4 separate regions of the Homo sapiens genome follow, and regions 2, 3 and 4 are each reported to be linked to region 1. Evidence: microRNA targets listed by miRTarBase, many of them from high-throughput screens and not tested one by one. Region 1 holds a microRNA gene; each other region holds the end of a gene's coding sequence.

Region 1 (3,131 bases):
TTATGTGTAGGAATTATTCTTTCTGTGAGCATACAGTATATGGAACTTTCTTTCTTTTGAGACAGGGTCTCAAAAATATATGATGTATGGCCAGGTGCGGTGGATCACGCCTGTAATCCCAGCAGTTTGGGAGGCCGAGGCGGGTGGATAACCTGAGATCAGGAGGGCGAGACCAGACTGGCCAACATGGTGAAACCATGTCTCTGCTAAAAATACAAAAAATTAGCCAGGGCTGGTGGCGCACGCCTGTAGTCTCAGCTACTCCGGAGGGTGAGGCAGGAGACTATCACTTTGAGTGTGTGTCTTTGTGTGTGTGTGTGTGTGTGTGTGTGTGTGTGTATGTGTTTCTAGTTTTTACAAGACACAGCCTGACTATATCACCGAGGCTGGAGTGCAGTGGTGCAATGTTGGCTCACTGCAACCTCCACCTGCCACCGCAGCCTCCTGAATTAGTGTCTACAGGTATGCACCACCACACCTGGCTCACTTTTGTATTTTTTGTACAGATGAAGCTTCACCATGTTGCCCAGGCTTGTCTGGAACTCTTGAGCTCAAGTGATCCTCTCACTTCGGCGTCCTGAAGTGCTGGGGTTAGAGATGTGAGCCACCGCACCCAACAGGTACTTGTGTATTTTTTTATTGAGGAGCTTTTACAGCGTAGCCTGTGGTCTCTCCTGGAGGATGTTTGTGTGTGCGACAATGTACATTCTTCAACATCTTAGATTCCATTTTGGATGCCCCCATGGGTACTACATGTGCCTATACTGGAACTCAAGTGAACACTTGGCTCAAAATCCATTGCTGTTCTCTAGAAATTCAGTTCGATTCTCTTGGTTAAAGATAAGGTATGAGTAGTAGGCATTGCTTTTTCTCTTTGGGGGCAAAACTCAGGAGGATTGCCCCTTGATGAACAAGGCTAACCTGCTGAGCCTTTGAAAGAAGGAACTGGAGATGGTCCTTTTAGGGGGTTTATATTCTGGATTCCAGAAAACATGCAAACAGGGCCAGGAAAAATGCATCTTTATTTTTGTGTCCATTTAAACCTGGTCAAGGAAAATTCCAACAATAAACCCAGAGTGCTGGAGCAAGAAGATCTCAGGCTGTGACCCTCCAGAGGGAAGTACTTTCTGTTGTCTGAGAGAAAAGAAAGTGCTTCCCTTTGGACTGTTTCGGTTTGAGTAAAGCAGCGTTGAAGTTGATGCTGATCTTGGTAATACATTTGCAGAGCACGCTCATCATCAGACTCGGATGATGTTGGGGTTCTGATTTTGTTTTTCTCCAAGACAGGGTCTCTGTTGCCCAGGCTGGAGTGCAGTGGCAGTTCCAACCTAGCTCTCCTGGGCCCAAGAGACCCTCTATTTATTTATTTATTTATTTATTTATTTATTTATTTATTTATTCATTCATTCATTTAGAGATGGAATCTGGCTCTGTGACCCAGGCTGGAGTGCAGTAGGACAATCTCCACTCACTGCAACCTCCATCTCCCAGGTTCCAGCAGTTCTGCCACCTCAGCCTCCCATGTAGCTGGGATTACAGGCGCCCACCACCATGTCATGCTAATTTTTGTATTTTTAGCAGAGATGGGGTTACACCATGTTTGCTGGGCTGTTCTCAACTCCTGACTTCAAGTGATTTGCCTCCCTGGCTTCCCAAAGTGCTGGTATTACAGGCGTGAGCCACTGTGTCCGGCCTCAAGTGGTCTTCCTGAGTCAGCCTCCCAAGTAGTTGGGATTACATGGGGCGTGACACAACACTTGGTTCAGCTTTTAATTTTTGGTAGAGATGGGGTCTCTGTTGCTCAGGACGGTCTCAACTCCTGAGCTCAAGCGATCCTACAGGTGTGAGCCACCTTGTCCTGATGACCCATTTCAAAGATAGTTGACTTGGCCAGGCATCATGGGGCACACAGTCCCAGTTACTGCAGGGGCCGGGGCGGGAGGGTGCTTTGATTTTAAGGCTATACCGTGCACAGATCCCACCTTTGAATAGCCACTGCACTCCAGCCTGGGCCAACATAGCAAGATCCCATTTCTTTAAAAACAGATTACATAGCACCTGGTCCCACAGATTTCATTTGGGTTGGTCATGTCATACAATGGCCTCCCATCAATTTAGTATAATCAATCCAAACCATGGTTCCTTCATTAAGAGAGTGGGTAATCCTCCAAGTCCATCCAGTCTATTCTGTAATCCCCAGTGGGTGTCCGTATTGATACAATTTCTTTTTGTTCCTGTTCACTCGTGTCTTTTTAGTGTAATCTGCTTGTCCGTAACACTGAAATTTGTTTTTCCCCAACATCTTGCCATCATTTCTCGGAATAGACCTGCTTTCTCTGCAGGAAGGGTGTAGTTGATTCAACCCTCACCCACTAATGCCAACCCCAGTGAGTTCTTTGACTGTAGCTGCCATGTTTATCCTATTTTCTTTGGGTAACGATTCCAAGGTACCATTCCAATGGGCTTAAACCTTGCATCTAAATGCCAGTTACTTGCTAAGATGTCAAATGTGTCTTATATTAGCTGTGGCTAATATAAGAAACTGTTGTAGACAAGATGAATCTCAGTCACAGTGATAAATGTAGCATGCAACAAAACCAGTTGTTTTCACAAAAATCTTGAGGACCCTAGAAGGGGCTCCCTCGTAACAGGTGGAATGCACAGCAGCTCTTCTTGTTGCCATAGTGAGCGATGCATGTTCTTCCAGTCCTCAACACCTTTTATTTATTTATTTATTTATTTATTTATTTTATTATTATTATTTTTTTTTGAGACAGAGTCTCGCTCTGTCACCCAGGCTGGAGTGCAATGGTGTGATCTCAGCTCACTGCAACCACTGCCTCCCGGGTTCAAGCGATTCTCTTGCCTCAGCCTCACGTGTCGCTAGGACTACAACCGTGCACCACCACGCCCGGCTAATTTTTGTATTTTTAATAGAGACAGGGTTTTGCCATGTTGGCCAGGTTGGTCTGGAACTCCTGACCTCAGTTGGTCCACCTGCCTCAGCCTCACAAAGTGCTGTGAATACAGGTGTGAGCCAACACGCCCGGCTATCAACAACTTTTCCTACGTAGAAATTATTCGGGCACTGGTTTATAGAACCTCACGTGGGTTCACGTAGAATTGAAGGG
Region 2 (3,131 bases), not on the chromosome of region 1:
AGGGCGATAGCCTCACAAGGCCTTCTTCGTGGTGTTATCTGGGGCTGAGCACTGTCCTTGTAAATTGAGGGAACAGCTTCCCATCCACTCTCCTTTTACTCTCTTTCTTTCTTTCTAACAGCACACCATATGGTCCCTCGGCCATCAGTGCCACCTCCTGGTGCCAATGAGGAGATCCCTGATGACTTCGACTGGGACTTGATCACTTAGTGCATCACAGAGTGTGGACATCAGCCCAGGGCCGCGTGGTGAAATCTGGCAGTGGGGAAAGAGCAACCCCAGCCCGTCCCTTCCCCCCGTCTGTATATAGACATATATCCTCTTTTTGTTCTTTCTCTGTCAGAGAAGCCACTGCAAGATGCTGCCGAAGATAACCCTCTCTTTCCTGCCTCATTCTTCTCTCTTCCTTCCTGTTTTTTCCTAGTTCTTTTATTATTATTCTTATATTATTATTATTATTATTGGTTATATACTGTCCATAGTCTCCTGTCCCTACATCATGGATCATGTCCACCTTTTGCTAATTTAAAATCATCAGGCTGGAAGATGAAGCCATGATAGCTACAGAGAAAGGTTTTAGACTCCAGTTTACCTTTCTCTTGGAGAAACTCAATGCTAATCCCACCTTTTGGCCCTAAATTGTTTTTTGTTCCCATCAGTTTCAGGCCAGGACTGGAGAGGCCACATTACCAAGTAGAAAGGGTCTGAAACATTACTTGGCAGCCAAGAATTTGGAGGTTTTAAAATGGTGCTAATTCTGTCCTCTGAGGTCTTCCTTGTCCCTTTATACCTTCAATCCTTACTTCTGCCAGTCTGTATTTCCTATCAAGGGTGAAAGTGATGATGGTGGTGCAGGAGGGTGACAATAAAATCCTAGTGGAATTGGAGACCATTGGAAGGGATGGAATATAAGTCAGTGTGAAACTGAGTATACACTGCCATGTTACATCAGTGTCCATTGGCTTGTTTTGAGCCTGTTCTCTAAGAAGATAGGATTGGTTTTAGCCCAAACTCTGCTTCTATGGTAGGGCATGAGGACAACTATTCAGCATGGTTTTAGCTTCTTGGAGATGATTCCAACTTAACTATTTTGGCTTTTTAAACATAATTTTCTCTGAAAATTAATTGTGGCTCTTATTTGCATTTACGAATGATCTTCCCATCCCTTTTTCCCATTCAGCAAATATTAGTTTGTCCTCCTTTAATTGTTTGCCCAAATCTTCCACCCATCTTTTTTCTTCCCTCATTTTCTGGGATTCTCAAGAAAGAAAAAGTAACCCATTATCACTCTGAGTTTCGTCGTGCCCTGAGACATGATGGGAATCTCATTCCCACCTCTCATAGCAGAGCCAAACCTTTAGTGTTGGTGGTAGGAGGATGGGGAGAGGAAAAAAGAGCTGGCAAAGAAATGGATAGGGAATATTTTAGTTCTTTAAATATATAGGCAGATGCTTCTCTTGGAATCCAGATCATCTGGCTGAAGCTTTTGCAAGTAGGCTTTGAGGGGTGAAGGAGATTGGTGGAGGAGAGTAAATAATCTAGAGGCAAGAGTTCAGTGAGGGCCAAGGGGGACCCCCAGAAAAAGGTATGGAGCTAACTCATCTCTTTTACAAGGGGTGGCCATGACTTACTGTTGCAAAGTACTCAGTGTATATTTAATGTTGATTGTTGAATTTTAGTTACGAGAGGGAAGAACAATTTTACTTCTGTCCTTATTTCACTTGCTGAAAAGCTGTGGGACAAAATGTATGGAATAGACAAGGCCACTTTCTTTGTGATTTCTGCTTTTCATGCATATTATTTTATTTACCCATAATTTCCAAGAGGTTTGGCGTTCCGCTCTCCTGCTTTTTTCTTTCATCCACCCCTTTCCTTTTTTTGGAAGGGGGTTATATATGAGAGTTCATTGAAGAAGTCCAGTGAGGCTGAAGTAAAGGGGCAAGATAGGGCAGTTAACTAAAGAGCACTTTATTTCTTTGAAGCCTTTCTAAGAAAGAAATGGGGGTGCGAGTGGCTTGAATCTCCCATGATGTTGGAGGGCACTTAGTGGGGTTGAAGTATGACATAATATTTCCCATTGGGGAAAGGAGAATTTCTCTTAGAGGGTGGCAAAATGCCTTTGCCCAGTGTCCCTATTTTAGGCATCTTTTCCTTCCTTATTCCTTCCAGTCAGGGTGTGTCCTATACAAAACTTCCCATCAGTTCTCCTCAATATTCCCCATTTGTAAATGATCACTTCTCTTTTCTAAACCCTTTTCCTGTTCAGATCCATACAGGATTTGCAAGGGTAGGATCATACATGCAAATGCCCCTTGTTCATCTGTGTCTTCTGCAAACTAGTCTCATGAAGAATTCTGGCGTGCAGCCAGGGTAGCTGAAGTTTGGGTCTGGGACTGGAGATTGGCCATTAGGCCTCCTGAGATTCCAGCTCCCTTCCACCAAGCCCAGTCTTGCTACGTGGCACAGGGCAAACCTGACTCCCTTTGGGCCTCAGTTTCCCCTCCCCTTCATGAAATGAAAAGAATACTACTTTTTCTTGTTGGTCTAGCATTGCTGGACACAAAGTGTAGTCATTATTGTTGTATTGGGTGATGTGTGCAAAACTGCAGAAGCTCACTGCCTATAAGAGGAAATAAGAGAGAAAGTGGAGGAGAGGGACAAAAGGAGTAATTATTTGGTATAGATCCACCCATCCCAACCTTTCTCTCCTCAGTCCCTGCTCCTCATGTTTCTGGTTTGGTGAGTCCTTTGTGCCACCACCCATAATGCTTTGCATTGCTGCATCCTGGGAAGGGGGTATATGGTCTCACAAGTTGTTGTCATTGTTTTTTTGCATGCTTTCTTAATAAAAAAAAAAAAAGAATGTTTACAGTTTTATCTTACTGGTAGTGGTCTCAAGTTTCTTTTGGCCAGGGAAGGAAAAGAGAAACGTGAAAGAATTTAGTCTCAGTTCGTCTTTATTCCTCTTCCACCTTCCACCACTGGGTTGAATTAGTTGACCCTGACACGTTTTGTGACCTTGGTGGGAAAGAAGAATCAAAGGCACGTCCTTAACGTGCCTCTTTTCAAATGCTATCAAGTATGATGACATATTGCGGGAGAGTCAGTCACCCCTTGTAGGTTGGTATATG
Region 3 (3,131 bases), not on the chromosome of region 1:
GAGAAGTGACAACAAGGAAAATCCACAACAGGAAGGGGCTAAAGGAGCAAAGCCATGTGCAGTGTCAGCTGGCAGATCCAAAGGGAATGGTCTGCAGAATCCTGAACCAAGAGGGGCAAATATGAGTGAACCTCGGTTGTCACGGAGGCAGGTCAGCTCCCCAAATGCTCAAAAGCCATTTGCTCACTACCAGAGACATTGCAGGGTGGAATACATCAGCAGCCCCCTAAAAAGCCACCCACTGAGAGAGCTAAAGAAAAGCAAAGGAGGTAAACGGAGTCTGAGCAACCGTTTGCAACATCTTGGTCACCAGCCCACCCGCTCAGCAAAGAAACCCTACAAATGTGATGACTGTGGGAAAAGCTTCACGTGGAATTCAGAGCTGAAGAGACACAAGAGAGTCCACACAGGAGAGAGACCCTACACGTGCGGAGAGTGTGGAAACTGCTTTGGGCGGCAGTCAACCCTGAAGCTGCACCAGAGGATCCACACTGGAGAGAAGCCATACCAGTGTGGCCAGTGTGGGAAAAGCTTTCGCCAGAGCTCAAACCTTCACCAGCATCACCGACTTCACCATGGGGACTAAAAGGAGCACTCCATGCTTTAGATTCACACGGAAGGTGTTTGTGTTTCTCCTCCCCCTTACTTGCATGTAAATCACAAAAACTGTGTGACTTACAAGGAAAGCACGAGGCCCTTGAGGAATGATGATGCACATTCTGCTGTGAGGAGGCCCAGAAAAGGCCAACCAGGGCCCAACCGTGCATGATGACAGGGTGAAGAGAAGGCAGGTCTGGGCACTGGGGCAAAGAGAACTTAAGTCTCTGCAGAGAGCAAGGAGTAACTACTGAGAGAGAATCAGGACAATCCTGCAGGTGGCCCGCTTACTGTTAAATCGTCCCTCTGTTGCTTTATCCTCTAAAATATGTTAAGGGATAAATTCTATATATATAGTTATGCATTTGCTGTCATACCAGACAATTTTTTATCATGAGCACACTTCTTTAATAAAGATGAGTGATCTACCAGAATTTCAAGGCAAAGTTAATTGGAAAATAGATCCCTCATATTCTTTCTGTAATTACTAGCTGTTTATAGCAAAGGATGAATTAAATGAGAATATGCACGTTTGTGCGAGAAGAGTTTCCAAGTAGTTAGATGGTGCTTTTACAAAAAGAAAAGAAAATTACATTTGAGGGATCTTTTTTGTATCAAAGCACCTTTTTTTTTTCCTTTTTATTTTTTGAGACAGGGTCTCGCTATGTTGCCCAGGCTGGTCTCGAACTCCTGGGCTCAAGCAATGCTCCTGCCTTGGCATCCCAAAGTGCTGGGATTGCAAGTGTGAACCACCGTGCCTGTTCTCAAAGCACCTTTGATTGAGAAAAAAAAAATCTACACAGTTGCTGCAACCCCAGCCTAACACATAAGGAAAAGCTACAGTGAGAAGCAAGTAGTGGACAAAGAGTACTAAGGAGATATAAAAGGGAATTCTTCCCACTCTCCTTTCTCACTTAGCCCATTAGCTTTAAGAATAACAAAATGCAATGGGGGTACAGTGGCTCACACATGTAATCCTAGCACTTTGAGAGGCTGAGGCAGGGTGATCGAGCCCAGGAGTTTGAGACCAGCCTGGGCAATGTAGCTAAATCCTGTCTCTACAAAAAATACAAAAATTAGCCAGGCATGATGGTGCATGCCTATAATCCCAGCTAGCTACTCTTGGAGGCTGAGGCAAAAGTATTGTTTGAGCCCAGGAGTTAGAGGCTGCAGTGAGCTATGATTGCACCACTCCACTCTAGCCTGGATGACAGAGTGAGACTCTGTCTCAGGAAAAAAAAAAAATAGCAAAAGGATTGGGGTAATGAAAATATTCTAAGACTGGATTACAGTGATGGTTGCACAACTCAGTAAATTTACTAAAAATAATTGAAATGGGCTAATTTTATGATATGTAAATTGTACCTCAACAGCGTATTTTTAAGTGACAAAATATATTTATATAAAATGAGCCCTGGAAATAAGCCTGAGCGATCATCTAATGCCACCTCCTCGTTTTCTCAAAGCGGAAATTAAAATGCAAATCAGTATACAATTCCTAGCTCATTGCTCAGTTTAGAGAAAACTTTTGGCAGATTAGTGCATTCCTGATGCAGAAAATAAGAAGCAAGTAGCATTTTTTTTTTTTGAGACAGGGTCTCACTCTGTTGCCCAGGCTAGAGTGCACTGGCGTGATCATGCCTCACTATAGCTTCGATCTTCTGGGCTCAAGCAATCCTCCCTCCTCAGCCTCCCGAGCAGTTGGGACTACAGGAATGCACCACCATGCCTGGCTAATTTTTCTATTTTTTTGTAGAGACAGAGTCTCACTGTGTTGCCCAGTCTATCCTCGAACTCCTGGGCTCAAGCCATCCTCTCACTTTAGACTCCCAAAGTGCTGGGATTACAGATGTACGCTCAGCAAGGTAGCATTCTTCACAAAACATCAGTATCATCAAGTAACTACCAGTCACCTCAGGGCTGTGGGCTGAGCTCTTCTGTACCCCCCAAGGAATCTCTTGTCCCTTCTAACTGCCGAGGGACATATGCACACCTATGAGTCCTCTTTGGGGCCTTTGCACACAATTGTTTCCTTTGCCTTTATTTCCTGATGCTCCCCACTCCCTCCTGCCTCCTCCCTCTCACAAGAGTTTCCTTCTCTCAAAGCCTTCCCTGAGGAGCCCTAGGCAGACTTCTGTGAAAATTGGGGTCCAGCCTCTCTGCTAGACCCCATACACCAGGGGTGCTCAAACTGGGAGCCCCCCAGGGGTTGTCGGACAAAGTCCAAAGACACTTTTGGTTGTTAGGACTGGGGAAGGGAGGCTTGTTGCTGGCCTCTAGTGGGTTCTACTGAACCGCCTGCAGTGCCGGGACAGCCAGCCCCCACAGCAATGACCTGGCTCAAAAAATCAGTATCACCAAGGCTGGGAAACTACCATGCACTATAACAGCTCTTTCAAAACAAGAACATTGTTTTTCCATAACTTTAGCTTCTGGACTTTGTCAATAACCAGCCAAGAGAAACAGATGTTCAGTATGTGAACAGTTGAGAATCCCCACTGTACCCACAGGGCCCATGTCTGCCTGAGTTCAGA
Region 4 (3,131 bases), not on the chromosome of region 1:
TAACCTAAGGGTAATGGAAGCCAGGTTTCTCACAATTAGAGAAGAGGGAAGAACCTAGGATCAACTCTGTGATGCTGGATTGGAAATGGATGTTATCAGAGTAAACTCATGTGTACTTAGGTGTATATGTATGCACATGCGCGCGCGCGCGCGCACACACACACACACTCCCTAACTCTGTTCACTGAGAGAGCCTGGGAGCAGAGATGTTCCACAAGCAAAGAGCATACTTATCACCAAAACCTTGGCTTCTAAATACCATTTTCCACTAAGAGGAACCCAGATTCTCTGGAGAAACATCGGATTCCAGGGCTGAGATGGGAAAATACAAGATGAACCTGTGACACCAGGTGCGGTGGGTCACACCTGTAATCCCAACACTTTGGGAGGCCGAAGCAGGCAGATCACTTGAGGCCTAGAGTTCACAACCAGTCTGGCCAATATGGTGAAACACTGTCTTTACTAAAAATACAAAAATTAGCCAGGTGTGGTGGTGGGCACTGTTAATCCCAACTACTTGGGAGGCTGAGGCAAGGCAATCGCTTGAACCTGGGAGGCAGAGGTTGCAGTGAGCCGAGATCGCGCCATTGCACTCCAGCCTGGGCCACAGAATGAGATTCTGTCTCAAAAAAAAAAAAACAAAACAAAAAATGAGCCTGAAACTCTTGGTTGTTTCAGCCCTCAAAGGATGATGAGGACATATCAAAAGGATGCAGAAGCCAGCTCGACGGGGTTCCCACTGGCCAAATCAGGGACAAGCTGAGCATCAGAATTAATCACAATAATAAAGGGTTGTAAGGATACAATGGGAATTCACAAGTTTACATCAATCAAAATTTTAAAATGCATAAATGGAAAGTTTACAATTTACATAGTTTCAAAGTACCCACTTACAAAATGCTTATTAATTATAAAGGGAGGGAAAATAGTAACTTGGCTGTGGAGAAGCCTAGCAGACACCCCTTTAATCAAGTGATCAAAGTGAACGTTGTTGGTATGGGAGAAGTTGAAATCACATGCCTTCTGATAGGATGCACTGGGCAGAACACAAATTGAGAGACAGCCTTCAAACTCAAGTATCAAGGTCACAAAAGTGAAGGAAAGTTGACAAACTGTTCCTAAACTGAAAGAGACAAAAGAGACTTGAGAACTAGATCCAAGGCTTGATTCTGGTCTAGATCCCCTTGCTATGGAGGACATGATAGGAACTCCCAGTCAATCTCAAGAATGGGGTCTGCAGGTTGGATGGTGGCAACATGACCGTGCAAGCATCCTGAGTGTTGCAAGTGCTTTGGAAAACGGCAGCATGCTTGAATGTGCACAGATCACCAGGGGGTCTTCTTAAGACGCAGACTCTGACTCATTGAGCCTGGGTGGGGCCTGAGGCTCATGGGACCTATCCAATCAGCTCCAGCTGTGCCCATTCTGCTGGCCCAGGGATCGTACTTGGAGTAGCAAGACTCTAGTGAACCTATGAAGAGTATTTGCTATTTACCTCCCAAACACGCACCTTCCCCTTCTTTTGATTCTAAACTCTAATTTTCCTTTGGGAACATCCTCTCCTGCCCTCTGTGCACCTGTTTTGGGTCAGATAGTCCCCAACACTCAGGCAAGAAGTGTGCAACCTGGGCCTCTGCCTCCCCATCCTCTGGCCACTGTGAAAGGTTCAAGGCTGGTTCTGAAACCCAGGCAGGGCCAGTGTATTCATCTGCTCTCACACTGCTATGAAGAAATACCCAAGACTGGGTAATTTATAAAGAAAAGAGGTTTAACTGACTCACAGTTCAGCACGGCTGGGGCAGCCTCAGGAAACTTGCAGTCGTGGTGGAAGGCTCCTCTTCACAGGGTAGCGGGAGAGAGAATGAGAGCCGAGCGAAGAGGGAAGCCCCTTATAAAACCGTCGGATCTCATCAGAACTCACTCACTCTCAGGAGAACAGCATCAGAGAAACCACCCCTATGATTCAATTATCTCCATCTGGTCCCGCCCTTGACACTTGGGGATTATTACAATTCAAGGTGAGATTTGGGTGAGGACGCAGAGCCAAACCATATCAGTTAGTGAAATGCAACTCTAAGAAGCCTGGCTGAGTTAACAGCCTCTACAGACCCCATTTGTCTTCTGGAGCCTTCCTAAACTCCTAAGGCTTACAGCGGCTCAGGCCTTGCCTTCTGCCCTCTAACTCCAAAGGCCTCAAAGGCTTTTCTGATCCCCATATGACTCCACCACAAAGTATCCATGTGCCCTTAGGAAAATGAATTTTTGCTTCAGTTTTCACACCTATAAAATGGGATACCACTTACCTCAAGGGATTGTCCACCTAAAGTGTTTTCACAGGACCTGCTACAGAGTAGATGCTCAATACATTTTTAATTGTTCACGTTGGCTTTTGGAGCCCATGACCCCACACAAAAAGAAGGGATGGCATCTTGCTGGTACATCTTAGGTCACTTTCTGTATTGATGGTGGCTCACCACGGAGTGTGGGGCCCCTGGAAGATGAAGCCAAATCTGCTAGCTACTGTTATTGTTCCCTCCAGGTTCCAACAATTCCTGCACAGTCTAGCTACCCAATTCATTCCTAGTTTGCTCCCATCCTATATCGAGTTGCCTATATAAATGCATATCAAAAGGAAATAAATTAGCAACGTTGTAGGTGCCACCGAGTGCAGGTTTTCTCCCAGTCATCGCAGTCTCCTGCCAGTGAGCAGAAATCCCTTTCGACTGTCTTTATTCTACTGCCATCCTGTGGCTGGTCTGTGCCACTGCAGCACCCTGGGCCGGATGTAGCTGAGCATCTGTAGGGTCATTGTCCTCACTGTCCCCAGGAAGGGGCTCCTGAGGAGGGAGTGCAGTTGAAGGGTCTGCTCAGGTCCCCCACCAGCGGGCAGACGTCTGGCGTGAATCACCAGTCTTGACTTGGTTTCTGTTTGATGAACCTTAAGGACACGTAGTACAGGACCATGAAGCCACCGCTGAGGCCAATGACGATGAGGTAGATGGCGTAGAGAGGGTACGAGTCCAGCTCCATGACACTGAGGATCTGGAGACACAGACATGCAGTGGGCTCATGAGGAGGATGGAAAGCCGGACGTCCAATAATTTAGAACCCGAGGCCTTCCCCGCTTACTT

The links. The annotated mature microRNA hsa-miR-520a-3p reads AAAGUGCUUCCCUUUGGACUGU and lies in region 1 at 1,147-1,168, shown strand. An mRNA with a match to its seed (bases 2 to 7 or 8) in the 3' UTR can be bound and repressed. Matches are read on the target gene's strand: a 7mer-m8 pairs with bases 2 to 8, a 7mer-A1 pairs with bases 2 to 7 and ends in A, and an 8mer does both.
Region 2: the mRNA of FOXJ2 is a reported target of hsa-miR-520a-3p. Seed matches in the 3' UTR shown: 7mer-m8 at 1,963-1,969 and 7mer-A1 at 2,040-2,046.
Region 3: miRTarBase lists ZNF174 as a target of hsa-miR-520a-3p. The part of its 3' UTR that is shown has no 7-base or 8-base seed match.
Region 4: miRTarBase lists ABCG8 as a target of hsa-miR-520a-3p. Seed matches in the 3' UTR shown: 7mer-m8 at 1,285-1,291.

The regions. Positions count from the first base shown.
Region 1 is chr19:53,689,787-53,692,917 of GRCh38, forward strand. It overlaps MIR520A (microRNA 520a), which reads left to right and starts at 1,095; the gene lies at 1,095-1,179. All of the region lies in intron 2 of LOC107985342 (a long non-coding RNA gene), which reads left to right.
Region 2 is chr12:8,052,641-8,055,771 of GRCh38, forward strand. FOXJ2 (forkhead box J2) reads left to right here. Exons shown (of 11, transcript NM_018416.3): 11 at 122-2,877. The coding sequence ends at 210. Among named protein-coding and RNA genes, the nearest start is that of C3AR1, 12 kb to the right of the region's middle.
Region 3 is chr16:3,408,334-3,411,464 of GRCh38, forward strand. ZNF174 (zinc finger protein 174) reads left to right here. Exons shown (of 3, transcript NM_003450.3): 3 at 1-1,031. The coding sequence ends at 586. Among named protein-coding and RNA genes, the nearest start is that of ZNF174, 8.7 kb to the left of the region's middle.
Region 4 is chr2:43,877,687-43,880,817 of GRCh38, reverse strand. It overlaps ABCG8 (ATP binding cassette subfamily G member 8), which reads right to left. Exons shown (of 13, transcript NM_022437.3): 12 at 3,130-3,131; 13 at 1-3,042. The coding sequence ends at 2,905. Among named protein-coding and RNA genes, the nearest start is that of ABCG8, 40 kb to the right of the region's middle.